Linked DNA regions of Homo sapiens: all the other regions are reported to be linked to region 3. The links are microRNA targets in miRTarBase. Many come from high-throughput screens and were not tested one by one. Region 3 holds a microRNA gene; each other region holds the end of a gene's coding sequence.

The links. The annotated mature microRNA hsa-miR-504-3p reads GGGAGUGCAGGGCAGGGUUUC and lies in region 3 at 4,162-4,182, opposite strand. An mRNA with a match to its seed (bases 2 to 7 or 8) in the 3' UTR can be bound and repressed. Matches are read on the target gene's strand: a 7mer-m8 pairs with bases 2 to 8, a 7mer-A1 pairs with bases 2 to 7 and ends in A, and an 8mer does both.
Region 1: the mRNA of SLC25A33 is a reported target of hsa-miR-504-3p. Seed matches in the 3' UTR shown: 7mer-A1 at 5,291-5,297 and 8mer at 4,514-4,521.
Region 2: the mRNA of SMTNL2 is a reported target of hsa-miR-504-3p. Seed matches in the 3' UTR shown: 7mer-m8 at 1,443-1,449.
Region 4: miRTarBase lists DNPEP as a target of hsa-miR-504-3p. Seed matches in the 3' UTR shown: 7mer-A1 at 2,125-2,131 and 8mer at 3,118-3,125.

The regions. Positions count from the first base shown.
Region 1 is chr1:9,580,688-9,588,478 of GRCh38, reverse strand. It overlaps SLC25A33 (solute carrier family 25 member 33), which reads right to left. Exons shown (of 7, transcript NM_032315.3): 7 at 3,306-6,180. The coding sequence ends at 5,978. Among named protein-coding and RNA genes, the nearest start is that of TMEM201, 4.3 kb to the left of the region's middle.
Region 2 is chr17:4,606,180-4,613,970 of GRCh38, forward strand. SMTNL2 (smoothelin like 2) reads left to right here. Exons shown (of 8, transcript NM_001114974.2): 8 at 1,182-2,140. The coding sequence ends at 1,308. It overlaps LINC01996 (long intergenic non-protein coding RNA 1996), which reads left to right and starts at 4,270. Exons shown (of 2, transcript NR_145431.1): 1 at 4,270-4,654.
Region 3 is chrX:138,663,563-138,671,353 of GRCh38, forward strand. MIR504 (microRNA 504) reads right to left here and starts at 4,231; the gene lies at 4,149-4,231. All of the region lies in intron 3 of FGF13 (fibroblast growth factor 13), which reads right to left.
Region 4 is chr2:219,367,747-219,375,537 of GRCh38, reverse strand. It overlaps DNPEP (aspartyl aminopeptidase), which reads left to right. Exons shown (of 15, transcript NM_012100.4): 14 at 516-683; 15 at 1,196-3,495. The coding sequence ends at 1,246. LOC105373883 (a long non-coding RNA gene) reads left to right here and starts at 5,486. Exons shown (of 2, transcript XR_923917.3): 1 at 5,486-7,187.

The DNA of each region.
Region 1 (7,791 bases), not on the chromosome of region 3:
CAGAGTACGCAACTGCTTGTAATTAGTCTTTTTCCCCCTCGCTAATCCTGTCTAGTCAAACCCAGCCTATGCGCCCAGTGCTGTTTAGCAGCTCCTTGAGCCGCTCTAATGGTTGAAAAACTAGCTTTTTAGAAACACGATCATCCACGGATAGGGACATGGTTGAATAAATCATAGGACAGCCATAGTTCGGAACATAATGCAACCATTAGAAAGAATGCCAGATCCAGGCAGGGCGCGGTGGCTCACGCCTGTAATCCCAGCACTTTGAGAGGCCGAGGCGGGCGGATCACGAGGTCAGGAGATCGAGACCATCCTGGCTAACACGGTGAAACCCCCTCTCTACTAAAAATACAAAAAATTAGCCGGGCGTGGTGGCGGGCGCCTGTAGTCCCAGCTACTCGGGAGGCTGAGGCAGGAGAATGGCGTGAACCCGGGAGGCGAAGCTTGCAGTGAGCCGAGATCGCGCCACTGCACTCCAGCCTGGGCGACAAAAGCGAGACTCCTTCTCAAAAAAGAAAGGAAAGGCAAGGAAAGAGAGAGAGAGAGAAAGAAGGAAGGAAGGAAGAAAGGAAAGAAGGAAGGAAAGAAGGAAAGAAAGAAAGGAAGAAAAGAAAAGAAAGCCAGATCTGGAGTTATTGGCATAGATGGATGATACATTGTTTTTAAAAAGCAACATGCAGGCAGGGCGCGGTGGCTCACACCTGTAATTCCAGCACTTTGGGAGGCCGAGGCGGGCGGATCACCTGAGGTCAGAAGTTCAAGACCAGCCTGGGCAACATGGTGAAACCCCATCTCTACTGAAAATACAAAAATTAGCCGGGCGTGGTGGTGCACACCTGTAATCCCAGCTACTCGGGAAGCTGAGGCACAAGAATCGCTTGAACCTGGGAGGCGGAGGTTGCAACGAGTCAAGATTGTGCCGCTGCATTCCAGCCTGGTGACAGGAGACTCCTTCTGAAAAAACAAAAACGACAACAAAAAAGCAACATGCAGGCCGGGCACATGGTGGCTCACGCCTGTAATTCCAGCATTTTGGGAGGCCGAGGCAGGCGGATCACAAGGTCAGGAGCTGGAGACCATCCTGACCAACATGGTGAAACCTGGTCTCCACTAAAAATACAAAAATTAGCTGGGTGTGGTGGTGGGCGCCTGTAGTCCCAGCTACATGGGAGGCTAAGGCAGGAGAATTGCTTGAACCCAGGAGGCGGAGGTTGCAGCGAGCTGAGGTTGCGTCACTGCACTCCAGCCTGGCAACAGAGTGAGACTCCATCTCAAAAAAAAAAAAAAAAAGAAAAAGAAAAAGAAAAAGCAACATGCAGATTGATTTTTAAATAATATCCAAAGCTTAAATAAAGCCTTATGTGCTTGTGGGAAGTGGAGAATAGTTAACACTGAACTGCAAACTGATTACCTGGTGGTGGGAGGAGATTCAAGGGGAAGAGTCACTGTGTTTCATTATTGATTTCAGCTAAATTACTAGTTTTAAAAAAGTAAACAGAAAATATTTGTATCTAATTACACACTATGTTCCAGTGTTCTGATCACTTTTTTTTTTTTGAGGTTAACATTGTAAACTCTTTGTGGGTAGTGATGGATTGAGGGCAAATGTTTTTTTGCTCCTGCAGCCAGTTCCTCTGTCCACACCGGAATCATGCACATTCACTGGGGGGAAGGGGGACTGGAAAGTGAAGCAGACAGGAAACCTGGAGGTTCACTTGGGTCTGGACCTCCTCTTTCTTGTGAGTATCCCAGCAAAAGCCTTTCCATGCAGTCTTGATGCTTTCACCAGCCATGAGCAAACAAAATAATCATTTAAGGTGTATCTTCCCTCAAAACAGCAGGCAGGCATTGTGTTTAAGTGCCATTTGCTTCCCAAGGAAGATTCAGTTTGCATGTCCCACCCAAAGGACTCTTTATGTGGCCAATTCTATTACGTGCATTAGTTTAAGCACACCTTTATCAGCAGTATCATCCATGGATCTGTAATTCTTAAGTAAAAGGAATGAAATGGTTTGTCAGATCTTGACTTTGAAGTCAGACCATTCCACAGGCTCAGATGCCCCTCTTGCTCTGTCGTCCAGATTGGAGTAGAGTGGCACAATCCCATGGCTCACTGCAGCCTCAACCTCCTGGCCTCAAGGGATCCTCCCACCTCAGCCTCCCAAGTAGCTGGGACTACAGGTGCATGCTCAGCTAATTTTTTTGTAAAGAGAAGGTCTCCCTATGTTGCCCAGGCTGGCCTTGAACTCCTGGCCTCAAGCAATTCTCCTTCCTCAGCCTCCCAAAGTGCTGGGATTACAGGTGTGAGCTACCGCAAGGTGGCTAATGCCTGTAATCCCAGCACTTTGGGAGGCCAAGGCAGGCAGATAACTTGAGATCAGGAGTTTGAGACCAGCCTGGCCAATATGGTGAAACCCTGTCTCTACTAAAAATACAAAAATTAGCCAGGCGTGGTGGCGGGCACCTGTAATTCCAGATACTTGGGAGGCTGAGGCAGGAGAATCGCTTGAACCCAGGAGGTGGAGGTTGCAGTGAGCCGAGATCATGCCATTGCACTTCAGCCTGGGCCACAGAGCGAGACTCCGTCTCAAAAAAAAATTGTTTTAATTTAAAAAATCTTTATATTAAAAAAAGAGAAAGAAAAAAGCACAACAGGATGACTACAGTCAATAATAATTTAATCGTACTTTTGAGACAGGGTCACTCCTGTCACCCAAGCTGGACTGCAATGGTGCCATCTCAGCTCACGGCAACCTCCGCCTCCTGGGCTCAAGTCCTTCATTCTCCTGCCTCAGCCTCTGGAGTAGCTGAGACCACAAGTGCACACCACCGCACCCAGCTTTTTTTTTTTTTTTTAAATAAAGACAGGGTTTCACCATGTTGCCAGGCTGGTCTCGAACTCCTGAGCGCAAGTGATCCTCCACCTGCCTCACCCTCCCAAAGTGCTGGGATTACAAGCGTGAACCACCCAACCCCAACATTAACTGTGCATTTCAGAATAACAAGAGTGTAACTGGATTGTTTGCAACTCAATGGATACACGCTTGAAGGGATGGATACCCCATTCTTCATGATGTGCTTATTTCACGTTGCACGCCTGTATCAAAACATCTCATGTACCCCATAAATATATATACCTCCTATATACCCACAAAAATTAAGAGAAAAACCACAGGTATTTCCCATTTTTAAAGCTAATGAGCCCTTTACAGAGGAACCATCACTTCTTTCCTACTTTGGGTGCCTAAGCAGCTTGCATTTCCATGCCCTGGGGCAGGAGAAGCAGAAAACTAAAATTATAATTGGTTACTATCAAATTTATTCATTCAAGAAGGAGTGAAAACAAAGCAATTTTACACCTTCATATTAGACACAATCTTGGAAAACAGGTTTTAATATGGATATAGGAGGATGTTGCTAAGTGCCATCATCGAATATGAATATTAAAATAGGAATGTGAATATTAAAATTAGATGTTACTCTGTAATTCCAGTGCTTTGGGAGGCTGAGGAGGTAAGATCGCTTCTGGCCAGTAGTCTGAGACCAGCCTGGACAACATAGCAAAACCTCGTCTGCACAAAAAATGAAAAAACATTAGCTGGGCATGGTGGTACTTTCCTGTGGTCCAAGCTACTTGGGAGGCTGAGATGCGAGGATCCCTTGTGCCCAGGAGTTTGAGGTTACAGTGAGCTATGATCTTGCCACTGTATCCAGCTTCAGTGATCGAGTGATACCTTGTCTCAAAACAACAATAACAACAAAGGAAGGGGCGGCGCGGGCCAGGTATGGTGGCTCCCTCCTGTAATCCCAGTACTTTGGGAGGCCGAGGCGGGTAGATCACCTGAGGTCAAGAGTTTGAGACCAGCCTGGCCAACATGGTGAAACCCCATCTCTACTAAAAATACAAAATTAGCCAGGTGTGGTGGCGCATGCCTGTAGTCCCAGCTACTCAGGAGGCTAAGACAGGAGAATTGCTTGAAACCGGGAGGTGGAGGCTGTAGTGAGCCGAGATTGTGCCACTGCACTCCAGCCTGGGAGAGACAGAGCGAGACTCCATCTCAAAACAAAACAAAACAAAACTTCTGGAATAGCATTACTGTCATGTATTGTAAAGTACAGAAGCTTCACTAAAGTCACTCATTTTGACTTCTACGTAGTTGTTGGAGCAATTACACTAGAGTCAAGAACCCCAGTTAAAAGTAAACTCAATTTAAAATAACTTGGAAATATCCTCCTCTTAACCCTACCAGGGTGTCTGCAAGTAAACCTGAAACTACAGTGCATAGGTATTAGAAATGAGTATCTTTCTAGACGTTCAAATTGAAAACCAACCTTCATGTACAATATACTCAAATTCCAGTGAAAGAGCTAATGGAAGACTAGGGGTTTTACTTGCCTTCTTCTTAGTATCATCTTTTTGTTCCCTTATTAAATTTGCTTTAAAACCAAGGGGGTAACATCCTGGTTTTTTTTTTTTTTTTGAGATGGAGTCGCACTCTGTGGCCCAGGCTGGAGTGCAGTGGCGCCATCTCAGCTCACTGCAAGCTCCGCCTCCCAGGTTCACGCCATTCTCCTGCCTCAGCCTCCCGAGTAGCTGGGACTATGGGTGCCCGCCACCACGCATGGCCAATTTTTTTGTATTTTTTTAGTAGAGACGGGGTTTCACCGTGTTAGCCAGGATGGTCTCGATCTCCTGACCTCGTGATCTGCCCGCCTTGGCCTCCCAAAGTGCTGGGATTAAATTTTTTTTTTTTTTAATGTTGAACTAGGATATTTAAACAATCCCAGTGCTTTCTATCAGAATGTGAGCTCTCTGACGGGTGAGCCATAGTCCTACGTTGTGCTCCTTTTCTGCAAGAGCAGAGGTCCAAGAACAGGGCTAAAGACCTCAGTGGGAATGACTGTTCTTCATCACATTCTGGATTCACAGCCAAACAGGGTAGCTGTGCTGTCAACACACTTAACAAGGCAACTGGTCTTAACTTCCGGAACTATATCCAGGAGCCAGGCCATTGATAAAACAGTTCTTTAAAAATTCTTGCCTTTGGTTCAAAGTAGGGAGAAAAGGATAACTTCAGGAAGTTTTTTATAGCTTAAAATATTGAGTCTCAGAAAGTTATATATATTCATCTCAGCAGTCTGAACGCTTAGATGATCAATCTGCAAGTAATTGGAAATGTACAAAGAAGAAAAATTGCTGGGAAGTTTGTCCTGGTCCACACACCACCACCAAAATGTGACACAATTTTTTTTTTTTTGAGATGGAGTCTCACTCTGTCGACCAGGCTGGAGTGAAGTGACGTGATCTCAGCTCGCTGCAACCTCTGCCCCCTGGGTTTCAAGTGATTCTCCTGCCTCAGCCTCCCAAGTAGCTGGGATTACAGGCACACGTCCGGCTAATTTTTGTATTTTTAGTAGAGACAGGGTTTCGCCATGTTGGCCAGGCTGGTCTGGAACTCCTGACTTCACGTGATCCATCTGCCTCGGCCTCCCAAAGTGCTGGGATTACGGGCGTGAGCCACAGTGCCCAGCCAAAATGCGACACTTCTTCCCTGTCTAGCAGTGCAAGATCTTAAAGTCAGATTATAAAACAAGTTGTATTCTCACTTTATCATTTTTCTCTGCAGTTCTAGGGCAGGTTTATCTGAATTACTTAAGTCCTTCATAGTATAGTGAGCATAAAAGAGGACACAAGCCAAATGTATACTTAAATTAAATAGCATGATTTAATTTAGTTGGTGCTTAACCCTGAATCCTCTTAAGTTAAAAAAAAAGTTATAATTAACTATTAACGTTAATGAATTTAAACCTTCCAGAAAGCATGAATCCAAAAGGAAATGTCCAACAGGTGATATGAACCAGATATTTTATGGCCTTTCCTGTTTCAGTCTCAAACTTTCTAAACATCAATGGGGAAAAAAAATTCTCTAGAGTTTTTCAGTTTTATTCTTCTAGAGCACAATTTTCCGGCCTGTTACTGAGTACGGTCTTCTAACAGGTACACAATTAACTCATAAGTAGACAACACAATGGCAGTATTTGGGATCTGCCGGATAAGCTGGGCAAACAGTCCTCTATAAAAGGCAAGGTAGCCTTCTTCCCGGAACACCAGGCGCGCCGTCTGGACAAAAGACTTGTACTTGGTGCCCTCTTCCCGGAGCCTCGTCCTTATGACTTCTGCAGAGAGAGAAAGACCTACTTTACGCCACATATTAAATGGGGAACGAATCCACAGCACACAACTTTAAAACTGTCAAGGTTAGGCCGGGTGCGGTGGCTCACACCTGTAATCCCAGAACTTTGGGAGGCCGAGGCGGGTGGATCACTTGAGGCCAGGAGTTGGAGACCAGCCTGGCCAACATGGTGAAACCCCGTCTCTACTGAAAAACAAAAATTAGCCAGGCAAGGTGGTGCACGCCTACTACTAGAGTGGCTGAGGAATGAGGATCGCTTGAACCTGGGAGGTGAAGGTCGCAATGAGTCGGGATCGTGCCACTACACTCCAGCCTGGGCCACGGAGCAAGCAAGACTCTGTCTCAAAAAATAAATAAATAAAATAAAATTGTCAAGGTTACAACTGTGTCTATTTCCCACCTCAGCTGTATTTGGACAGGAAAGTCACATAACCTAGAGAGACAATGAAAAATTAAGTTCTTTTTAGAACCTTTTCCAACTCTAGGATTTGGTCAACTATGGACACTTACACATACACGAAAGTACAAAATAACTTTTTTTTTTTTTTTTTTGAGGCAGAGTCTCACTCTATTACTCAGGCTGGAGTGCAGTCGGTACGATCTTGGCTCACTGCAACCTCTGCCTTCTGGGTTCAAGTGATTCTCCTGCCTCAGCCTCCTGAGTAGCTGGGATTACAGGCACCTGCCACCACACCCAGCTAATTTTTGTATTTTTAGTAGAGACGGGGTTTCGCCATGTTGGCCAGCCTGGTTTCGAACTCCTAATCTCAGGTGATGTGCCCATCTTGGCCTCCCAAAGTGCTGGGATTACAGCAAAATAACTTTTAAGGGGTTAAAAAAAGCTTAGTTTCAATGAGACTTAATGTTAAAATAATTCATGGTTTTCTACTCCCAATTAAGCAAATGCTAATTTGTATGAAGTATGGCAATACCTTCAACGAATTCTTTTCTTATATTTTTCAGTTTCCTCCTCCTCCTGGAAACGTTTTCTACTCTGCCCAGCTCAAAAGCCACCCTCTCCTTTGCCAGCCTTTGCCCACCTGGGCCTCCTTCCCAGACACCTAGAGTTGGACATTCGTCACTCCTGCCCTCACACAGACCTCAGACCCTGGGAGGCATCACTGACCTCTTTCCTCAGATGTCCTCTGGGGTCAGCTTAGTGCTCCAGGACACAAAGGGGACTCAGCACCTGTTACTGAGTTGACTGTATGCATTTGCCATAGCTGACAGTACAGAAGGCTTATGAAAATAAAACCTGTTTTTCATGGCACAATAAACTAAGCATTTTTTAAAATAAGTAGGCCAGTAGGTCAAGAATTCTATAACTCAAAAAAATAAACTTACCCAAAGTAGCCTTAAGGCTCCATTAGAAATAGAGGCTGAATGATTATTATTATTATTATTATTATTATTATTTTTTTTTTTTTGAGACAGAGTCTCGCTCTGTTGCCAGGGTGGAGTGCAGTGGCTTGATCTCGGCTCACTGCAACCTCCACCTCCCGGGTTCAAGCGATTCTCCTGCCTCAGCTTCCCAAGTAGCTGGGACTACAGGCGTGCGCCACCACGCCCAGCTAATTTTTGTATTTTTAGTAGA
Region 2 (7,791 bases), not on the chromosome of region 3:
CGCACGATCTCGGCTCACTGCAACCTCTGCCTCCTGGGTTCAAGCAATTCTCCTGCCTCAGCCTCCCGAGTAGCTGGGACTACAGGCACACGCCACCACGCCCGGCTAATTTTTGTATTTTTAGTAGAGACAAGGTTTCACCATATTGGTCAGGCTGGTCTCGAACTCCTGACCTCAGGTGACCCGCCTGCCTCGGCCTCCCAAAGTGCTGGGATTACAGGTGTGAGCCACCACATCCAGCCTACTTTTTTTTTTTTTAACTTAAATATAGTTTCACTTCAAATTTAAATACAATATGCCAGGTACTGTGGGTCGCCTGTGCCTGTAATCACAGCTACTCAGGAGGCTGAGGTGGGAAGATCGCTTGAGGCAGGCGTTCAAGACCAGTCTGGGTAACATAGTGAGACCCCATCTCTACAAAACTATTTTTAAAAAACTAGCTGGGCCGGGCGTGGTGTCTCACGCCTGTAATCACAGCACTTTGGGAGGCCAAGGCAGGTGGATCACCTGAGGTCAGGAGATCGAGACCAGCCTGGCCAACATGGTGAAACCTTGTCTCTACTAAAAATACAAAAAAAAAATTAGCCAGGCGTGGTGGCAGACACCTGTAATCCCAGCTACTCGGGAGGCTGAGACAGGAGAATCACTCGAACCCGGGAGGCAGAGGTTGCAGTGAGCCAAGATTGTGCCACTGCGCTCCAGCCTGGGCAACAAGAGCAAAACTCTGTCTCAAAAACAAAACAAAAAAACAAACAACTAGCTGGGCATGGTGGTGTGTGCCTGGAATCACAGCTACTTGGGAAGACAAGGCGTGAGGATCACTTGGGCCTAGGAGATCGAGGCTGCAATAAGCTAGGATCGTGCCTCTGTACTCATGCCTGGGCAACAGAGCAAGCCCCTGTCTCTAAAAAAAAAACCCAAATTAAATAAAGTAAGTCTGTTTAAATGAAAACATGAATTGTACAGGTGGCTCATAAATCTGGGAGTTTGGGAAACATTGTATTGGAGTCAGTGACTCCAAGGGTTCTGCCAGGGTTATCTGAATTCCCCGCTGGTGGGTCCTTGGGAACCTCTGGCTGCCGGCTGAGCTCTGTTCCCGGGACCGAGACACCGGCCCTGTCGCGGCTGTGGGGCTGGCTGATGGCTGGGACCACCGTTCTGACGGGGCTTGTGTGTTTCAGGAATCTGGCCAACTGTGAGCGCCTCATCGAAGTGGAGGACATGATGGTGATGGGCCGCAAGCCGGACCCCATGTGTGTCTTCACCTACGTCCAGTCGCTGTACAACCACCTGCGTCGCTTCGAGTAAAGCCCCTGAGCCTGGATTGCCAAAGAGCAGCCCCAGGAAGAGGCCGGGGGTCCGCTTGCGATTCCCCAGCCAGGATGCCCCCAGGAGCCTTGCCGTTTGGTGTGAGCGCGCTGTTTGTTCTGTGGCATGTGACGGCACTCCCCTTCGAGCCCAGCTGTGTTACTGATTAAAAGTACTGCTGAGCTGTGGTCCGACAGCACTGATCACAGCCAAGGGCTTGGAGGAAAAGGAAAAATTATGAGAGAGAGAGAGACATTGGTGCTAAGTAATGATCTTCCTAAAGAAATGCTTGTGTTTATAGCTTCCAGAATGCTAATCTACAATTTTCCCTCTGGTGAATTCGATACATCGGCTTTACAGGGTTACAGTGATTACCAAGTGTTTTTTTTTATCAAAATACCCAGAGTTTTTTACTTCCTCACGCGATTGTAGGTTCCTCTCCTCCCTCCCTCTGGGCCACTGCCAGGAAACAGAGAGACCGCTTAATCAGCAGCTTGACAAAGAAGACCTCAAGTCTTGGGAAGAAACAGTTTAATCACTCCCAAGTCCTGGGCAACAGATGACCTTCAAGTCACCTCCGCTCTCCGGGGAGATGGGAAGGCTCTCCTCTCGGTCCCAAAGTCCTCCTGTTCTTCCCAGGAGGCCCCACAAGTGTTTGGCTAAGCACAGGCTCTCGGGAATTTAACACTTTTGGGGAAGGAATAGGCCCTTTGTGCTGAGAGAGAGTTTTTATTCACATCTTTTTTAGGGGATTTGCTGCAGATATTTATAAAAAGTAACTCCCTCTGTACCACTGACCCATTTATACATAAAAAAGATGTGTTGAATTTTGCTTGGGGTTTGTCATTTCTGTTTAGGAGATGGGAGTTCTGTGAATAAGAGACTTTGCACACCTTCCAAGTGAATATCCACTACATTCCACCCCTGTTCCTGCACTTAAATCACTGGCCTGGAAAGCTGAAGATGGCATTTGCTGTCATCTCTGATCATCTCTGAGTGTGCCTGTCTCCCATCTCCATGTTGTGGAAGGAGCGTCAACAGAAAGTTCCCCTTGAGATCCGTCCTCTGGATGTAGACCGCAGTGTTTGTGATAAACAGTGGCCCAAGACAGCAGGGTTTGGGGTGGTCCCGCACTTGGAGGAAGCCCATCAAGGAACGTTGGTTTATTTTCACAGCTGTTTGGTGGTAGGACTTTCATAGAAAAATCTTGAGATTCTATAGAGCTCCAGCCATTAGCTTATTCTCAGCCAAGAATCATTGTATAATTGGGTTGGATTTTAGCCATGCACTTCTAAACCTTCCCTTTAAGGAGCGGATCTGTGTCTTCACCTCATGCAGCCGGCTCTCAACACCAGTGCCTGTGTGCCTTTGTGGGGTCCCACGTGTCCCTTGGGTGGTATATTGGGGGGTGGGCAGGAGATCCCTGGGGGTGTCAGGAGGAACATGGCAGAGCCTGCAGGTGGGTGAGCAGTATTCTCCATGGATTGGTTGGTCCAGGCTGCAGTCTTGCCCTCTCTCTCGGATTCTCCCACTCTGGAAACCATTCCCTTGCTAGCTCTCTCGTCTCTTGTACGCTTGGGGAGGTGAGACCTATTATTAACAGGACACATAACTGAAGGTTAGGGTTTCAAACCTGAAGCCAATCTGGGAACACAAGGGCTCTGTAAAAAGCATGGCTATATGTTACTGAGTCCTCGCACACGTTAAATGGAGCTCTCCCGAGTTGCAGACATGGCCGTACGCTCTGCGCATGAAACAGAGCAGATCCTGCCAGAATGCAGAACAATTTCTTTTAAACTTTAGGAATGGTGTCCCTCATGTCTCACATTCAGAATGAGACAGACTCGAGTTTTTAAAGTTGGTTCCATGATGTTCTTGTCTGTGGTCTTTGTTGGGGGTGGGGGGTGAGAGATCATAAGACAGTTTGTGAGTTTCAAACATGATTTTACCTCTAAGACAAAGCATGAGAAGAAAATCCAGGAAGGTCTCACAATCCTAAGATATTTGGAAACCACCGTTTTAGGTCGGGGTTACGTGAATGTTCCCCATTTGTGAGACCCAATTTCATCTTGCTTTCTACCCTGGTATGGAGGAATTCACATCTTTTTTCCCCTTTCCCGAGAGAATTATTTCTTGGAGCTGCTCATAAGAGTCTTCTGTTTTTCCAGATAGATTCCTTCACCTGGATTTTGTTAAACTTATTAAGTCGGACCAAATTGGCTTGTGTGTTTCCCTGAAGTGAACGTTTCACCAGAGCCACGATGGGTTTTAGCTTTTCTGATAGCTGATGGATATTTTTCAAGGCAAGCGAGAGCCTATAAGCACTTTCTGAATATGACAGAGCACATGCTGGTGAGAGGAGACCGCACAGGCCAGGTGTTTGGGGAACAGTTTGTTAAAGCCAATGAATTTCGCAAATGTGCTAGATGATGAAGAGTTCTCAGCTTTCCCGGTTGCAGTGATCAGAACTCTGTAACTGGAGACCGGTGTGAGAGAAGATTTTATTCTCTGCCATCATGACCGGGTCTATACGACTGCAGGCAATTGCACAGAAGACTAGAAATGCTGATTCAGTTGGTCAGTTTGGGGTGGGACATCTTACCAGTCCAGCAGAACCAACTCTGGCTTGGGTTTTTCTAGCTGGTGACAGGTGACCAACTCATTCTGATGAGTTGATTACGCCTGTGGACGTGGCCCACTTGATTTATTTTTTCTCCCTCTGTTAGCTGTGCTCTCCCAACCACCTGATAAATGGACCCAGTATGATTATTTCTGAGCCATCTTATCTCTCTCACTTTTAAAGCTTGGATTGGGTTTGCTTTTAGAGCTTTTGATCTCTTATCTCTTGGTTCTTGGACTTGCTTTGATACCAAACAGCCCTCATAGTCTTTTGAAAGAACACCTTAAAAATTCCTAGGCTGGGCGCGGTGGCTCATGCCTGTAGTCCTAGCACTTTGGGAGGCCGAGACAGGACAAATATTTGAGCTCTGGAGTTTGAGACCAGCCTGGGCAACAGAGTGAGACTCTGTCTCTACAGAAAGTTTTAAAATTAGCCAGGTGTAGTGACACATGCTTGTAGTCCCCATTACTTGGAAGGCCAAGGCGGGAGGATGGCTTGAGCCTGGGAGGTCAAGGCATCAGTGAGCGATGGTTGTGCCACTGCCTGGAGATAGAGTGAGACCCTGTCTCAAAAAAGAAAGAAAGAAAGAAAGAAAAATCCCTAAGACCTGACCTGCCTACTCCCTAGAAAGCACCAAATAAGGAAAAGCACTCCGGAAGAATGAAGCTAAGAAGGCTGTGCTCTCTGAGGCATCCGGGCAGCCTTCACTGGAGGGACAAGGTCCAGGTAGGTGGGATGACAAGCTGGGAAGGGGCCCTGAACCAGAGGCAGGTGATGTGGGTGGTGGCACCAGAGAGACACCAGACAGTGTTACCGTAGGTCTTGACTGTCCACCTTCATTCCTGAAGTTGATCCAGCTTTCTTACTGTCACGTAGGTGGATATAAAATCGATCTTTAGGGTTCTGATTTTTTGTTTGTTTTTGTTTTTTTTGAGACGGAGTCTCACTCTGTCACCCAGGCTGGAGTGCAGTGGCACAATCTTGGCTCACTGCAACCTCCACCTCCCAGGTTCAAGCGATTCTCGTGCCTCAGCCTCCTGTGTAGCTGGATGTACAGGCGCCCGCCACCATGCCAGGCTAATTTTTGTATTTTTAGTACAGACGGGGTTTCACCATGTTGGTCAGGCTGGTCTCGAACTCCTGACCTCAAGTGATCCGCCTGCCTTGGCCTCCCAAAGTGCTGGGATTACAGGCATGAGCCACTGCGCCCGGCCGGGGATCTGAGTTTTAATCACTCCCAGTGCAAGCGTCCTTATCTGGTTTGCAGACTGAGTGGCATTTGTGCTGCCGAGGCTCTTCCTGGCTTGCCCTCCTCTCTGGCTGTTGCTTTCCCTCCTCTGTTCATTAGAGCCTCCTCTCCTCGGCTTGTTGCTCCTATGTGCTGTGACCTAAGCTCTATGCTCCTTCTTCTACATTAGGGTTCATAGCCCAGGACTTTGGGGAGTCTGTGGATGTCCAAATTGAGTGTTTTACCTCAATTTGGTTGAGGTTGCAGTGAGCCGAGATTGAGCCATTGCACTCCAGCCTGGGCAACAAGAGTGAAACTCTGTCTCAAAAAATTGTATTTCTGGCCGGGCGCGGTGGCTCACGCCTGTAATCCCAGCACTTTGGGAGGCCGAGGCAGACGAATCACGAGGTCAGGGGATCGAGACCATCCTGGCTAGTACGGTGAAACCCCCGTCTCTACTAAAAATACAAAAAATTAGCTGGGCGTGGTGGCGGGCGCCTGTAGTCCCAGCTACTCAGGAGGCTGAGGCAGGAGAATGGCGTGAACCCGGGAGGAGCTTGCAGTGAGCGGAGATCGTGCCACTGCACTCCAGCCTGGGCGACAGAGCGAGACTCCATCTCAAAAAAAAAAAAAACATATATTTCTTTGATGTTTACTGGCTGGCATTCTTCTGTAAAGAAAGTCTTTCCCTCCCTCCAACTCAGTTTTTGAGTGTTCCTGGAGGCCCATGGATTTTTTTTTTTAATTCAATGTGTTGTAATCGCTTACTGTTATAATTTTTTTTGATGCTCAAACTGTTCAGAGGGAGAAGACAGCTCTTGTGTCTTTTTGCCATATTCCCATGGTTCTTTGAGCATTTTATTTTCTTTTACTTTTTTGAGACAGAGTCTCACTCTGTTGCCCAGGCTGGAGTGCAGTGGCGTGATCTCAGCTCACTACAACCTCCACCTCCCAGGTTCAAGCGATTCTCGTGCCTCAGCCTCCTGAGTAGCTGGAACTACAGGCATAAGCCACCACGCCTGGCTAATTTTTATATTTTTAGTAGAGACGGGGTTTCACCATGTTGGCCAGGCTGGTCTTGAACTCCTGACCTCAGGTGATCTGCCCACCTCGGCCTCCCAAAGTGCTGGGATTACAGGCGTGAGCCACCGTGCCCGGCCTTTGGGCACATTCTTGCTTTCTGGCACAAGGCGCTCCAGACTGACCTTTTACTTTCCTTGCCCCAACTGTGGAATCAGTCATTTATTCAGATCCTGGTCTCTTGTGGTGGAGAATTTTTATTTCCCAATGAAGGTCCAGGGACTTGGTGTGCCGGTTTTGCTGGGTGTCCTGCTTCTAGGCCCTTGCAGTGAACAGAGCTAAGATGTTTTAGAAGAGCCTGCAAGTATACTGAAACCTCCAGCTTCAATTCAGCACCACAGGCCTCATCTGTACATTAGTCCCTATTTTTCCTTTTTTCAAACCATCCTGATTCCCAACAATTTCAATACACTTACGGATTTCTTCTGTACCGCAATGTCCAAATTCTGAAACAGTAGTTTCCGAATTCTTAAACTGATGTCACTGCCAACAACAAACCCACCAAGTAAGGTTTGGGATTTCCCTTCAGCCCCTTTCCCCACCTTTGGGTATATTCCCTAAGGGTGCACAGGGTGCTGGATTCAAAAGTTACTTGAGGCTGGGCACGGTGGCTCACGCCTGTAATCCCAGCACTCTGGGAGGCCGAGGCAGGCGGATCACTTGAGGCCAGGAGTTCAAGACCAGCCTGGCCAACATAGCGAAACCCTGTCTCTACTAAAAATACAAAAATTAGCCGGGCATGGTGGTACATGCCTGTAATCCCAGCTACTAGGGAGGCTGAGGCAGGAGAATTGCTTGAACCAGGACCTGGGAGGCGGAGGTTGCAGTGAGCCAAGACCACGCCACTGCACTCCAGCACACGAAGTGACAGAGTGAGACCCTGTTTCAAAAAAAAAAAAAAAGAAATAAAAGTTACTTGAATTATTTTCTCTTGGAAACCATGTTATGAATTTGATATGCATGAGGTTGACTTGATTCTGTTTGTATTCAATTAAAGGTTTGTTTCCATCATTTTTATTTTCTTTTTTTGACTATGTAAATACTTCACCTAGGTCAAAAGTCAAAACTCTACAAAAAGGTATATTCCCATTCCCATTCCTCCATCTGTTCCCACCCTTAGTCTCTGTTTTCTCCTCCTTGCCTGTCTTCTCCCTTCCTCCTTTTCTTTTTACCTTCCTTCCACAACAATAAGCAGGTATATATCTATCATTTCACAGAGATCCTTCTCGTCCTTTTTTTCTTTTTCTTTTTCTTTTTTTGAGATGGAGACTTGCTCTGGAGTGCAGTGGTGCAATCTCAGCTCACTGCAACCTCCACCTCTTAGGTTCAAGCGATTCTCCTGCCTCAGCCTCCCAAGTAGCTGGGACCACAGACACCCGCCACCACGCCTGGCTAATTTTTGTATTTTTGATAGAGACGGGGTTTCACCATGTTGGCCAGGCTGGTCTCGAACTCCTGACCTCAGATGATCCGCCTGCCTTGGCCTCCCAGGGAAGTGCTGGGATTACAGGTGTGAGCCACTGCGCCCGGCTGATCCTCCTCCTCTTTAAAAAAG
Region 3 (7,791 bases):
ATTAAAACCTTGAGAATGATAATATTTGTTTTATATTTTAATTCTGTATCTAGTCCCAAATGAATCATCATTGACTACTCTCCCTCACCCAACATTATGTAAACATATAATAAATGGAGTTGTGGTTGTGGATAATCTTAGGAACAGACATTCAAATAAACAGGCATATAATTCTTATTTAAAAGTAAACTGGCCATCTATGCAAAATCCAAATACAATTTGTATCAGAAAAATTATAGGGTTGGGGTGTGTTTATATGATAAGAGAGAGAGGAGGGGGACCATTTTAGTCTATGTTTTCAAGGCTTTACACTTCACTCAACATAACTGCAGCTGAAACTTTAGTTTTTCTAAAGTCATGGTGGGGAATTCCTTACAGAAAGTCTCACAGCATCTTCTTTTGTGATTCACCTGTATCTCTGGTATTCTTTGTCATCTGATCATCTACTAGTCTAAATTAGGTTTCATTCAGCACACCTCCAAGGCTGTTCTGACAAACAGGCAGCTGCCACTACAGCATCTTCTTAAATGGCTCCATAAATGAAGTAAAGAGTATGGCTGTTCCAGTGGCCTGTTTTGGCTCAATGGTACAATCTTCCAGCTGGTGAATTCCCCAGTAAGTAAGCACTACAAGAACAATTTGTTTGATTGATGCAATGAAGCCTGAAAATTGCTATGGCACAAAGCTGCCTCCAGATTGGGAGGAAACTTTGGCTAGCACAGTCCCTTGAAGACATAAATGTTAAAGGCCATCTAACATTTTGTTTTGGCTAGGGCCCTCGAAAAGCTCAAAGTTACTTCAAATTATTAGTCAGGTCGGAAATGTTATATTCAATACATGTACGAGTCTTTAAAAGACCAATCATTCCTTTGTTTCAGTGAAATTATTTAAGTGATTTTAGGAGATAAAATTCAGAAAAGCGATCAGCTGAAAAAGGGAAGTTGTTACAAGAAAGATCATTTGCTCATTGATCTTCAAACACTAGTTTGCATGTGTGAGAGAGAGAGAGAGAGAGAGAAAAGGGAAATGAATTAATTTAAAAAATTAACTTAACAAAAAAATATTCCACAGATGGCTAGTTATAGAACACTTGGCAGTTAGAAAATGCCAAGAGGGTTTCCCACATAAGGCTGAGAAAAAAATGAGTTTATTTCTTTTTAAAAGAAGCAGTGGCAGAAGGACCAAGAAACAGAAGAAAAAAGATAGAGATGGAAAATCTGAACCTCCCTCTACCAATAGCCAACAATGGTCTGATTACAAGAATTTAGGAAACATACTACTTATTTTGGCTCAAAGAAGTCCAAAGGAAGTTCCCTTCTCATCCTTTTCCACCTTCCTCACCACTGCTCCATTCAATTTTATACCTATGTTGTTTTTAAACTCAGTATGCACTGACCTTAATACTCAAGGGTATGCTCGGTCCAATGAGCTCTCTGGAAGTGAGGGAACACAACCAAGATCTTTGTTTGTAGGAAAGGGGTTCTCAGTGACCTAGAGTTTGCTCCTTTAGTCCCTTCATAGTCTTCTACCCTGGAGAGTAGATTATATCCCAGTTTCCAGAGATCACCCCAAAACAAGATCCAGGTCTCACTTAAACCTAAGATTCCTCCACTCAAAACTAATTTGAAGGAACAAAGTGAGGCTGTCTGCTTCTCCTTGAACCTGTGAGGCCTTAGAATCTGTGTCAATTCTTCTTCAAGTATCATAGGGATTCCACGGCTACCTGGGGTTCAGCTCGAGCCAAGGCTCTAATGATCTCAATTTATTATTGATTTGACTGTGTAATTAAGTTACTTTAATCCTTGTGCACTGAACAACCAGTGTCCTTACTGCAAGTGTTCCTGACTGGATAGAGGAGATAGTAGGGGAGCTGTTTCCTGTGCCTTTTAAGCAGACACAGGCAAAATAATTTTGGAAGATTTTGTAAACACTTAGAATATGTGTATCTGCAATATATCTTTCTGGCTGGGCCTTTGGAAATATATCAAAAGCGTCTAGCGTACTTTAGTTAATGCCTAAGCATTAACTCTGAACACAGGGATAATATTAAAAGCATTTCATTCGTATTTATGAAAAACATGTAGATTTTTTGCAGTAGATTATATTTCAGTATTCTGTAAGTGCTTGTCAGATGAAGGCAGTTTAACTGAGATGTAGTGGCACTTAATTTTTGAAAAGAAAAGAGAAAGCCCCTACCCTCATGTAAAACTAGTGACAAAAGTGTGTGCCTGACCACTTTTTAAAAGAGCACAAGGATAAGACAGGGCAGCAAAAGGTGCTATTTTAAAGTAAAAAAGAATAGCAATCTGCTATAAAGAGAAAAAAAAGAAAGCAGGGAGCAATAATGCCATCAACTAAATTAGGGCTGACACAGGGCTGGGAGGTACATAATCATCTGTTTCTCAGATACTCAGATGAGAAGTGAAACCATTCCCAGTGTTTTCAAAAATTTTAACATGTATGCTATCACTAAGATGTTTTCATAGGGAGTTTTTGTCCTATGATTTAATTCCCTGGCATTTACATTGTATTTCTTCAATTGTCTACATTTTGAAATCAAAATGTTCAAATGCTGAATGATGGTAGTCTAGACTCTCTAAACTGTCCAACAAAAGACATGGATTTTCTTCTTCCTGAGAAAAGTCTGAGTTGCTATATTATCTCATAAGCCTCATCAATAAGGATCCAATATCTGAGAGTTTTTTCTACATATAATACACTGTGTATTTGCATTCCTGAAAAGAAAAAAATGTGTTTTTATTGTTAAAATCTAGCCATATTCAGTTGTCAGCTAATGAGGAAATTCATGAGAAAGCTACATTCTCCTAAGGTATGATCCAAAAAGTACGTATGACAATAATTGAATAAGAGGTGCTAGAAAGAAGCACTTAAAGAAAGTGAAGTTGGGACATGGCAAAGTGTACTGGAAAGAGTATTGGTTAGGAGTCACAAGACTTGCTTTCTAATTCCAAATTCCAATGTTGTCAATTATTTATTAGCTACGTGTCTTTTGGAAAACCACTTCATCTTTCTGGACATAAGTTTCCTTATCTATAAGGACAGAATAATAAGCCCTTCTCTATCTCACAAGGTGTAGCAGGGATCAAATGAGGAAATAAAGATGAAAATACTATAAATTTTAAAGTGTTAGATATAGGTCTATTTCAATTATCATATATGAACAGAATACAGAAACATATACAACTTATAAATAAAAGATCATTATTCCATTTCCTAACACTTTTTTAAGAATTCAAGTGCCTGATCTAGACATAAAGGTTGTACACATTTAGGTGTGAACAGTTCCTTGTTCCCAAAAACAAAAACAAATAAACAGAGAACAAACTAAATAGATTATTACTATTCAACCACTAAAATGTAGATTAAGAATAATATTTTAATATATAGAGGAATAGTCATAATAACGAGTAAACAGCAGGTTTGAAACATGGTATGCATAGTTATTCCAAATGTACATATATATCTTTATGTAATATATATGTATTTTATATATGTACACATATATGTGTATACATATATTATGCTATATCATATATTAGGTTATATATGTATATTATGTATTTATACATATATATAAAATACGTATATATTACATGAAGATATATATGTATATTTGGAATATATGTATACATATATAATATACATATATATTACATAAAAATGTATATTTGGAATATATGTATATATATAGAGAGAGAGAGAGAAAGAAAGACAAAGACAGAGAGAGAGAGATATACACGAATTCCAGCTAGCCACTACAAGGATCTATAACAGAACATTAATATTGGTTTTCTCTTGGTTGGGGGACTTTGTAGATACCTTTTTGTATTTTCCAATTTTTCTGCAAAGAACATATATTACATTGGTAAACAGAAAATAAACATACACAAAATAACTGTTCAGAAAGAAAAGCTCAATTAGAAACTTAACATTCTTACTGAACCTGACTATAAGAGAGTTACAAAGACATTTCAATAACTACTAAAGAGACTTATCAGGATTGAGTTTCTTCATAGAAGAGGATCAGTTGAATTTTCATGAAGCATTGGGGTGGTGGGGTAAGATTCCAGGTGAAATGGCTTTGAAGTTGAGTTCCAGTCAACATTTGCCATACGGTGGTAGTCTGTGCCCTCTGTATGGGAAACCCTGCCCTGCACTCCCTTCAGTAAGAATACAGATAGAGTGCAGACCAGGGTCTCCCAACAGCAGCTGATTCAACATTCCACTCCATATTTTCTGTCTTCTGTTGTGATTCTATGTGGGAAATGGATGGCTCGTTGAGTTACCTTTTCCTTTTGAGTTATTCCACTTCAGTGATGGACACTAACTGATGAGGGTAGACTGTGGCCTTGTGGATCAGTTCGTCCCCTGTAAACAGCTGTACTTTTGGACTTTACATAAATTTTTCTTAGTCTTAAAAAAAATGACAATTTAATATATGATAGGATTTCCATAGTCTTCCAAGAATTATAGGCTTATATATATTGGCCTGAAGGCAGCATGTTATTATATGGACTGTAACGGCAAATAATATGAAGCATTTGTTAACTTAATGAACTTAACACTGTAAAATGCTGTGCATGTATTATCATTCCATTTAATCCTCTTAAGAACCCTATGAGGTCTATACTACTATTACCTCCATTTTATAGATGAGGAAACTAAAGGACAGATGGATTAATAATTCCTTTGCCCCAAATCATAAACCTTATAAGCATTTGAATTGTGTTTCAAATCCATGTAATGTCAGAGCCCTCCCTCTTAACCACTACAGGCATTTTAAAGGCAGATATTATGTATCATTTATTATGATGCTGCAGCCTGCTTAAAATCAGGATAGCAAAAGGTTGTTGCCACAGGGTAAAAAGGGGAAGAAGTGGGGGAGGGTAGTGTGTTCTATTTCAGAGATAGAGACAATGACTCCATTGTTGGTTATTTTGAGTTTAAAGAGCCATTAGTGATAGGTTAATGTGCAGCAGCCATTTGTATATATAAGCCTGGCTCTCAAGATGAAAGGTGTCTGCATATGGATGGTAACTGAAACCACAAGAATACATTTAATAATCTAGAGAACACAAGCAGAATACAAGACAACTACTGAGGCTGGAAACTGGGGGTGGGGAGGACATCAAACATTTCAGAAAAGACGAGGGAAGTGTAAAAATTAAAAGAAAAATAGTGATGGTGTAGAACAGAGAAAAAGCAGTGTTGTGAAAGCCCACAGAAGAGATGGTTTCAATGAAAAAGTTGACCAACCTGGTCAAGTGCTGTAGAAAGGAGAAATAAGGTAAGGACTGAAGGGAGAAATGGATTTTAGTTGGCAGTCACTAGCGACATTAGCAGGAGGAGTTCATGGATGGCAATGTGGGCAGAAGATAGAATGCGGAGGGCTGAATAATTAAGAATTAGATGAGAAAATAAAAGCAAAGGTGAAGCTGAATAATTTAAAAATAGGCGAGAAAATGAAGAAAGCTCTTGCCTATCAAAGGAAAGAGACAGTCTGAAAGAGAAACTTAGGAGGGACTTTTTAGGATGAGAAGTCTTGAAATGATCTGTATGCCAGTGGAAAAAAGGTAGTAGTCCAGGAGGTAGTGAAGGTACAGGACAAAGGATAATTGATGTATCTAGGTCCCCATGGCTTTGGGAAGAGATAAAATAAATGGAAAAAGAAGAGGAACTTTTCTTTTGGGAGATGGTTGTTGAACTGAATGGCTTTTAAGGCCCTTCACAATACTGATGCAATTTCATAAAGGATGGAAAAATCCTACAGTTATTGTAGTGAGTTCTGGAAAACTAGACAGAGGATGTACTCCAGTGGTATCAGGCTGGCAATACATGGCACAAAACAATGTTACAAGGCTCCAGTGTACTTCAGACAACTACCAATAACCCCTGTGCCTGATGCTAAACCCAGACTTTTTTCAACAAATAACTGTCTCTTTTCCTTTCTTGTCTGGCTTCTTTTAAATGCTAAGTTTGAAATGTGATACCTTTGCATGAAAGCGGCATGCAGTCTACATGTCAGTTGATAAGAGTATACTGGAAATATTTCACTTTAATAATGTGGATAGGATCCTTCTGCCTCTCCCCTTCTCCCCTGGCCCCCACACCTTGTTCTTAATATCTCTGGATTCCATCTCTTCCCTAAAATACCTTTAGGATTTCTCCTATGTGCATAACAAATAACAGCATTATTTACATTTTAGCACTTCTTCTAAGACGTTTCCAGGTGCTAGATACAAGCTGTAGAAGAGCTTGCATTTTTTCCTTTAGATCTAAATAGTCTGAATCTCAGTATTGCTCATGGGAAACTGTTTCAAAGGCTGAAGTGTCAGAAGCAGAAAGGAAAGAAATGAGTGGGTGGGAAGTTCTACATGCAAACCTGTCACACTCTTCTTTCATTTTCAGACCTGAATATGCATGGATGCAGAAATTATAGCTTATTCCAAAGTTTTTATTGTCAGCATCAAATTTAACAAAAAAACGTCAAGAATATCAGATTGGTATATTTAGGTGAAAATGTTCAACAGACTTCATCTTTAACACAAATAGTCCTATCCGTTAATAAGCCCTTTAATTCCCTTTGAATACACTTCAAGAGAGGGCTCCAGGCAAAGTACACAGTAAAATCTCATTTATTCCAATTTCGCTACTTTGAAATTTACAATAATTTAAAAACAGAATAGGGAAGAAACTTGATTTTGTTTAGAGATCCCTTTATACGTATAGAACAAAATAATGACACTGAGAAAGAAACTTTAAAAATACTTGCAAGTCAAATTATAAAGATGATGCATGCATAAGAATGTTTACCATAACATTATTTTGTAACAGCAACAAAGAAAAAAATGCATCAGCAGAGGACTGGATGAGCAGATTATGGTACATACATACAACAGAATGTTATTCATCTTTTAAAACAATAATGTGGATGTACATTTATTGACATAGAAATACATGCACAAGATGTGCGTAAAAAAGCAAGTTACAGAACAGGTCATATAAAGTTATCTCATTTACATACAATCAAGTAGATATATGTGTATATATACACAGGGAGGCATACAGGTGATAGACACTGAAATATCTGTGTAGTGAGTTTGGGGTGATGTTTTATTTCTTTTTGTTTCAGTATAAAATAAAAACTAGAGATGAAAAAGTGCCTACGAACAAACTTTTCTGGAATACTCAACTTATATTTACATGTAAACAACTGAAACACTAATTATATATCATTTCATTAATTCAAGTCATCTGAGGACAAGAGTTAGCATAGTTTGAGTTAATCTAGAAAATTCATGTAATTATGTTTCCTTAAAAATCCTTTATAAGACTGACCTACTTCATAATTAATTTTTAGTTATAAGTGGATTTTGTGTGTGTTGTGTGCACTGGAAAAGTTTCAATGCTGTTCTTTAGCTATGACAAACACACATGACCATCACCATCGCCACCACCACCACCGCCATCATCATTTCCATTATTAATCTACATCATCATAAAGTATATTTAAAATATATTAAAATTGATTACATAACTCTTAGTGGAAATAAATGTATATTTCAAATACTCACAATGCTCCCTAGCAACAAATGTCAGCAAGTGATAAGGAATCAATAGTTGGACTATAGGAGTTCAATATAAATTAGGCTGAATTACGTCTCTGCTTCATATAGAGGGATACTCTTATCAAGAAAAACCTCCGGTTTTTCTATTTATATTTACCTGCTTTTGGACAAGTCAACATTTCCTCATCAAAGAGTTGAGTAA
Region 4 (7,791 bases), not on the chromosome of region 3:
TCATGAGTTAATACTGTAATTCTTATTCATAAAATTATTCTTATTTAGTTAAATAGTTACTACCTATTTGATTTTGTAATTCTGTTTTCTCTTACACTGAAAACCTTGATATCTAGCATCATATTTTCATTTTCTTATTTTTTTACCATAATATAAAGAAAATCATTTCAAAATGTCAGTAGCAATATTTTTAAAGACACTGATACCACTGAGTGATTTTTTTCTGTGAGTGTGGATATTAAGCAAGAGGGTGACAAGGATGGATACTTTTAAAAATCCCCCTTCCTGCTGTGTGGAGAATGGATTGGAACTAGGGTGGTGGCAATGCAGATAGAATGGGACCAATTCAGAATATATTGTCCTTTGGGGTCTGCCATTTAGCATTGGCTTTGATTTTATGCTCCGAATGGACCATCTCCCAGGCCCCTTCCCACCCTGCAATTCTAAGATGGCGTCCTCCTTGGCTCTGATAAGCACACACTGCATGTTGCTCATGGGTCTCCTGCTCTCCCTAGGATCTCATGGTCCGGAATGACACCCCCTGTGGAACCACCATTGGACCTATCTTGGCTTCTCGGCTGGGGCTGCGGGTGCTGGATTTAGGCAGCCCCCAACTGGCCATGCACTCTATCCGGGAGATGGCCTGCACCACAGGAGTCCTCCAGACCCTCACCCTCTTCAAGGTAACACCCACCCCAGACCCTCTCTGGCAGCTGGGCTGCTTCCCCTCTAGTGCCTGGATTGGTTGCTGGGACAACATCGCCATCACAAAGTGACTGGCCTGAGTAATGGGGGCTGGTTGTCATGCTGGGGCCATGTAGGAAAACAAGGGTCCTGGCCAACCACAGTGGCTCATGCTATAATGACAACACTTGGGGAGGTGGGAGGATTGCTTGAGGCCAGGAGTTTGAGACCAGCCTGAGCAACATGGCAAGTCCATGTCTCTACAAAAGAGAAAAAAGAGATAAAACAACGGTCCTTATTCTTCTCAAGGCTCAGGGGCCCTGACCCAAAGAAATGGAAAATGAGGGGATGGGAAGAGGGGATCAGGGCTGAGAAGACTGGGGTGGCTGTCAAGAACAGATGAAACCTCGGTGCTTCTCTTGCTGGAACATATGTTGGTGGGAGGTGGGTGGCAGGACATCTCCATCTGGTCACTCACTAATTCCAAACTCCATGTTGCCTCCCATTATAGGGCTTCTTTGAGCTGTTCCCTTCTCTAAGCCATAATCTCTTAGTGGATTGAGCCCTCTTGGAAAGACTTCTCTGCCATCCCTTTGCACCTGAGAGGGGAAGTTCTCAGCTGAGCTGAAGCTGGATTATTAAAGTGGATTGTCACTCAGACTCTCCGTGCTACGCTTATTTGGAGACTAGAGGAGTGGGAGTTGAGCCTGGCTTGAACCTTTGGAACCAGAAAAGTTGGGGAGCAGGTGGAGGAGGCCACACTCCTGGGAGCTGATGGTTTTAAATCTGGTTTTAAATCTCTTCTCTGTCTCAAGTCCATGTCTGAAGTGGGTGAAGGGTGGACTGGATCCTCAAGCAGAAGGTCACTTCTCCCACCCCTAGTCCTCCACCTGGGAAATGGCCTCAACGGTCTTCCCTCTTTCCATCCCCAGAATGGGTGTCCCGCTCTGCCTTCAGAGATCCTGTTCTGCACTGGGCCACCTTCAGAGCTGCTCTGGGCAGACAAAGCTGTTTCTCACCCTCCCAAAATCCCTTCCCATCCCCTCTCAGGAGCTGCAAAGAGAAGGGCACAGTCTATACCTTATCACCCTTCATCATCCACTTCTCAGCAGTCCCTGGTATTACTTGATTGTGAACATATTATCAGGAAAAAAGATTATCATTGAAAAAATTGGAAAAGTCAAAGTCTGGCCGGGTGCAGCGGCTCACATCTGTATTCCCAGCATTTTGGGAGGCCAAGGCAGGTGGATCACTTGAGGTCAGAGTTCAAGACCAGCCTTGCCAACATGGTGAAACCCATCTCTACTTAAAAAAAAATACAAAAAAATTAGCCAGGCATGGTGGCACACACCTGTAATCTCAGCTATTCAGGAGACTGAGGCAGGAGAATAGCTTGAACCAAGGAGGCGTAGGTTGCAGTGAGCTGAGATGGAGCCACCACACTCCAGCCTGGGCAACAGAGCAAGGCTCTGTCTCAGAGAAAAAAGGCCAGGCGTGATGGGTCATGCCTGTAGTCCCAGCACTTTAGGAGGCTGAGGTGGGCGGATCACCTGAGGTCGGGAGTTCAAGACCAGCCTGACCAACATGGAGAAACCCTGTCCCTGCTAAAAATACAAAATTAGCCGGGCGTGGTGGCACATGCCTGTAATCTCAGCCACTCCGGAGGCTGAGGCAGGAGAATCGCTTGAACCCAGGAGGCGGAGGTTGTGGTGAGCCAAGATCCTGCCATTGCACTCTAGCCTGGGCAACAAGGGTGAAACTCTCTCAAAAAAAAAAAAAGAAAAAGAAAAAGTCAAAGCCTGCTTATAAACCAACCTCCTTCCTTCCACTAAAATAATTGTGCAAACTGGTGTCCTTCCAATCTTTTTGATACCTATATAAAAGTTTATTTCCATATAAATATTCCACTTCAGCTTTCTAAAAAACTTAATATAATATAGAGATATTTCTATATCAATACATATAAATTTAATTTAGCAATGGCAAAAAGTTAGAATTCATCTAAAGATTTCTCAGTAAAGGCAAGCCCAAATACACTATGAAATGTCCATTATAGGTAGCTATTGAGAAAAAGATAAATTGTATAGTGTGTGTACTAACATGAAGAGATTACAAAGACATTGTTGAGTAGAAAAGGCAGGTTGCAGAACTGGACACAGGACAAGGAGTACCTTCAAAACATTATATGGCCAGGCACGGTGGCTTATGCCTGTAATCCCAGCACTTTGGGAGGCCGAGGTGGGCAGATCACTTGAGGTCAGGAGTTCAAAACCAGCCTGGCCAACATGGTGAAAACCTCTCTACTAAAAATACAAAAAAAATTAGCCATGCGTGGTGGTGGGTGCCTGTAATCCCAGCTACTCGGGAGGCTGAGGCAGGAGAATAGCTTGAGCCAGGGAGGCAGAGGCTGCAGTGAGCCAAGATTGAGCCACTGCACTCCAGCCTGGGCGACAGAGCCAGACTCCGTCTCAAAAAAAAAATTATTATATATTTTTATGTGTATATAAATATGCACGTAGATGTATACATGTATAGAAAAAGCCTGGAAAAATGCACCTGAAACTTTTACAGTGATCTTCTGGGTTGGGAGTGACAAAAGGGCCTTAGCCTTTTTGTAATGGTTTCCTTTTGTATAACAGAATGTACCATGTATTACTTATGTAAAAAATTTTACCCTCACACTGTATTTACTCTTACAATTGGCGTACAGTATTTTATTGTATAGATGGTCATTATTTATTCAGTCTGTTAATAATGGTCATTTAAGTTTTTCTCCAGTTGACAACTCTAAATAACATTGAGATAAATGTACATATATCATTGTACATTTGCCTTGGTTTTTCCCATGGGATAAATTCTAGAAAATGCCAGCTGAACTATAGTGACAGCAGACCAGTGGTTGCTTGAATGTCAAGGATTGAGAGAGAGTTTGGTTGCAAAAGGGTGCAAGAAAACTTTTAAGAGGGTGATAGAAATGTTACCCCAGAGGTGGAAGAAAATCCACATATAAATGGACCTGTGCAGTTCAAATTCATCCACTTACATGTGGATTTGTCCCAATAAAAGTTATACCGGCCAGGTGCGGTGGCTCACACCTGTAATCCCAGCACTTTGGGAGGCTGAGGTGGGCGGATCATGAGGTCAGGAATTCGAGACCAGCCTGGCCAACATGGTGAAACCCCATCTCTACTAAAAATACAAAATTTAGCAGGTTGTGGTGGTGGGCGCCTGTAATCCCAGCTACTTGGGAGGCTGAGGCAACAGAACTGCTTGAACCTGGGAGGCGGGGGTTGCAGTGAGCGGAGATCGCACCACTGCACTCCAGCCTGGGCAACAGAGCAAGACTCCGTCTTGGAAAAAAAAAAAAGTTATACCAAGTATGCCTGGCTCTCCTGAACCCCCACCCCTGCTACCCCCTATTCTACCTCCTCCGCCTCTTCTCCCACTGTTGCCCCAACCAACCCTTCTCTTCCTCCTCCTTGGCCTACTCAACATGAAGACGACAAAGATGAAGACTTTATGATGATCCACTTCCACTTAATGAATAGTAAATACATTCTCTCCCCCCCCCACCTTTTTTTTTTTTTTCAGACAGTGTCTTGCTCTGTTGCCCAGGCTAGAGTGCAGTAGCAAGATCTTGGCTTAGTGCAACCTTCACCTCCCAGGTTCAAGCGATCCTCCCACTCAGCCTCCTGAATAGCTGGGACTACAGGTGCCCACCACCATACCCAGCTAATTTTTTAATTTTTTAAAGAGACAGGGTCTCACTACATTTCCCAGGATGGTCTTAAACTCCTGGCCTAAGCATTCCTCCTGCCTCAGCATCCCAAAGTACTGGGATTACAGGCATAACATTTTCTTTTCTCTAGCTTATTTTATTGTAAGAATACAGTGTGTAATACATAGAATATACTTCATATGTGGTAATCTGTTTATGTCATCAGTAAAGCTTCTGGTCAACAGTAATTAAGTTTACAGGGAGTTAAAAGTTATACATGAAGGCTGGGTGCAGTGGCTCATGCCTGTAATCCCAGCACTTTGGGAGGCCGGGGTGGGCGTGTCACCTGAGGTTCGGAGTTTGAGACCAGCCTGACCAACATGGAGGAACCCTGTCTCTACTAAAAATACAAAATTAGCCGGGCATGGTGGCACATGCCTGTAATCCCAGCTACTCGGGAGGCTGAGGCAGAAGAATCACTTGAACCCGGGAGGCAGAGGTTGTGGTGAGACAAGATTGTGCCATTGCACTGCAGCCTGGGCAACAAAAGCGAAACTCCATCTCAAAAAAAAAAAAAATTGGGGTATTATTTCCATATAATAAATTATACACTTAAAGTGTAAAATTCTATGAATTTTGACAGATATACCATATACACCTGGGAAACCACCACCACAATCAAGATACAGAACCTTTCCATCATCCTCTTGTACCCCTTTGCAATCAATCTCTCTCTCCACTCCTGACGTCCAAGCAACCATTGATCTGCTTTCTGTCACTATAGATTAGTTTACCTTTTTTAGAATTTTCTTTTCTTCTTTTCCTTTTTTCTTCTGAGACAGACTCTCATTCTGTCACCCAGGCTGGAGTGCAGTGACGCCATCTCGGCTCACTGCAACTTCTGCCTCCTGGGTTCAAGCCATTCTCCTGCCTCAGCCTCCTGAGTAGTGGGGATTACAGGTGCGTGTCACCACGCCCAGCTTTTTTTTTTTGTATTTTAGTAGAGGCGGGGTTTCATCATGTTTGCCAGGCTGGTCTCAAACTCCTGACCTCAGGTGATCTGCCCACCTCAGCCTCCCAAAGTGCTGGGATTATAGGCGTGAGCCACCACGCCCAGCCCCTTTTATCTTCTCTTCCTCTTTCTCCTTTTTTTTTCCTCCTCCTCCTCCTTCTTTCTCTTGTATTTGTCCATTCTCCTTTTTCCTTAACTTAGTCTATTCTGTGTATTTTCTAAGTACCAGGATTCTTATTTGTTTGTTAATGCTAAGTGTGGTGGTGGTAAACCCTGCATGCTGTAGTATGACAGTTACTAGACTTTGACTGAGTGGTGGCTGTCCTTTGTAGGCCAGGGTTCACAGTAGGGAATGCTACCAGAGAACTGAGCTCCCTGATGTTAATGGTGATAGTAGGACTTCAGAGTAACAGTGGCCAGGTGGCAACATTTTACCATCATAGTTTGTGGTGTTTTCTGTCTCCTAATTATGCTGTAAGCATGGATTGTGTGTGTGTGTGTGTGTGTGTGTGTGTTGTTTGTTTGTTTTGAGACAGTGTCTTGGTCTGTTGCCCAGGCTGGAGTGCAGTGATGCAATCTTGGCTCACTGCGGCCTCAACTTCCCAGGCTCAAGTGATCCTCCTGCCTCAGTCCCCCTGAGCAGCTGGGACTACAGGCATGCGCCCCCACACCCAGCTAATTTTTTTTAATTTTTAGTAGAGACACGGTCTCACTATGTTGCCCAGACTGGTCTTGAACTCCTGGACTCAACCAATTCCCCCCACCTTGGCCTGGTATTACAGGTGTGAGCCACCATGCTCAGCAATTATGTGTATTCTTCCCCTTCTTTCTCTCTTCATTGACAAAATGATTTTAGGAGCGTGTCTAGAAAGGCTGGACTTATGCAGCTGCCGTTATCCTATGGGGACTGCAAATGTTACTTGTTAATGCAGTAAAATGTTGAAGGGGTTTGTAGAAGACACTGTTGGCAACTTACCTGTATCCGTCACTTTTACCATTTCAGTGTACACACTACCGTTTTCAGCTGCCAGCATCTGCACTTCTTGCCTGAGGGCTTTCTTTGCTGCTTGACTACAGTTTTCCACTCCCATGGCAGTTGGAAGTGCTGGGGAATTCAAGCTCCATCCCACAGCAGCTCTAAACAATAACTGGCAAGACTCTGTGTCTGAATACCACAGCTCCCTCCCATCTGGGGTGAGAGAACTCTGAGGCATGTAGTTTACACTGGCTCCCAGAGTCCCCCCAGCAGAATTCTGCTCCAGAGATAAGCCTGATAACACATGCCTCTATTGGCCACCTTCCCTTCCTTGTCTCCCTTTCCCACTCCCCAACCAATGTTTTCCTTCACCTCCCAGTAAATTCCTGTACACAGATCCTTGTCTCCGGGTCTGCTTCTGGGAAAACTGAAACTAAGTTAGAATTCTTCTGAGATTTTTAGATAAGGATGTCTGCTATTCTATTACGATTCAGCATTTTACTCTAGGTCTTTAGCTATGTACTAAAACAAGAAAAGGAATGAAAGAAAGGTGGAAAGGGAGGAATAAAACTTTCTTTTTATATTATTTGTTATGTAGAAAATCCAAAAGTTATACTATTTGAATTAATAAGTTATTTATTTATTTATTTTTGAGACCGAGACTCGCTCTGTCACCCAGGCTGGAGTGCAGTGGTGTGATCTTGGTTCACTTCAACCTCTGCCTCCAAGGTTCAAGCCATTCTCCTGCCTCAGTCTCCCGAGTAGCTGGGACTACAGGTGCACACCACCACACCCAGGTAATTTTTGTACTTTTAGTAGAGACAGGGTTTCACCATGCTGGCCAGGATGGTCTTGATCTCCTGGCCTCGTGATCGGCCTGCCTCGGCCTCCAAAAGTGCTGGGATTACAGGTGTAAGCCACTGCACCCGGCCGTAATGAGAGAGTTTATCAATACAGCTGGCTGAAAAATCAACATACAAATATCAATTTTATTTCTACATACCAATAAAAAATGGGTAGAAAACGAAATTTTTAAAAGGTTTACTTCTACAAGCATAAAAATCAAGTATCTGTCAATAAAGTTATGCAAGATCTCTACAGAGAAAATTTGTGTGTGTGTGTGTGTGTGTGTGTGTGTGTGTGTGTGTGTGTTTTTTGAGACAGAGTCTTGCTCTGTCACCCAGGCTGGAGTGCAATGGTGTGATCTTGGCTCACTGCAACCCTCGCCTCCCAGGTTCAAGTGATTCTCCTGCCTCAGCCTCCCAAATAGCTGGGATTACAGGCATGTGCCACCATGCCCAGCTAATTTTGTATTTTTAGTAGAGATGGGATTTCACCACGTTGGTCAGGCTGGTCTTGAACTCCTGACCTCAGGTGATCCGCCCGCCTTAGCCTCACGAA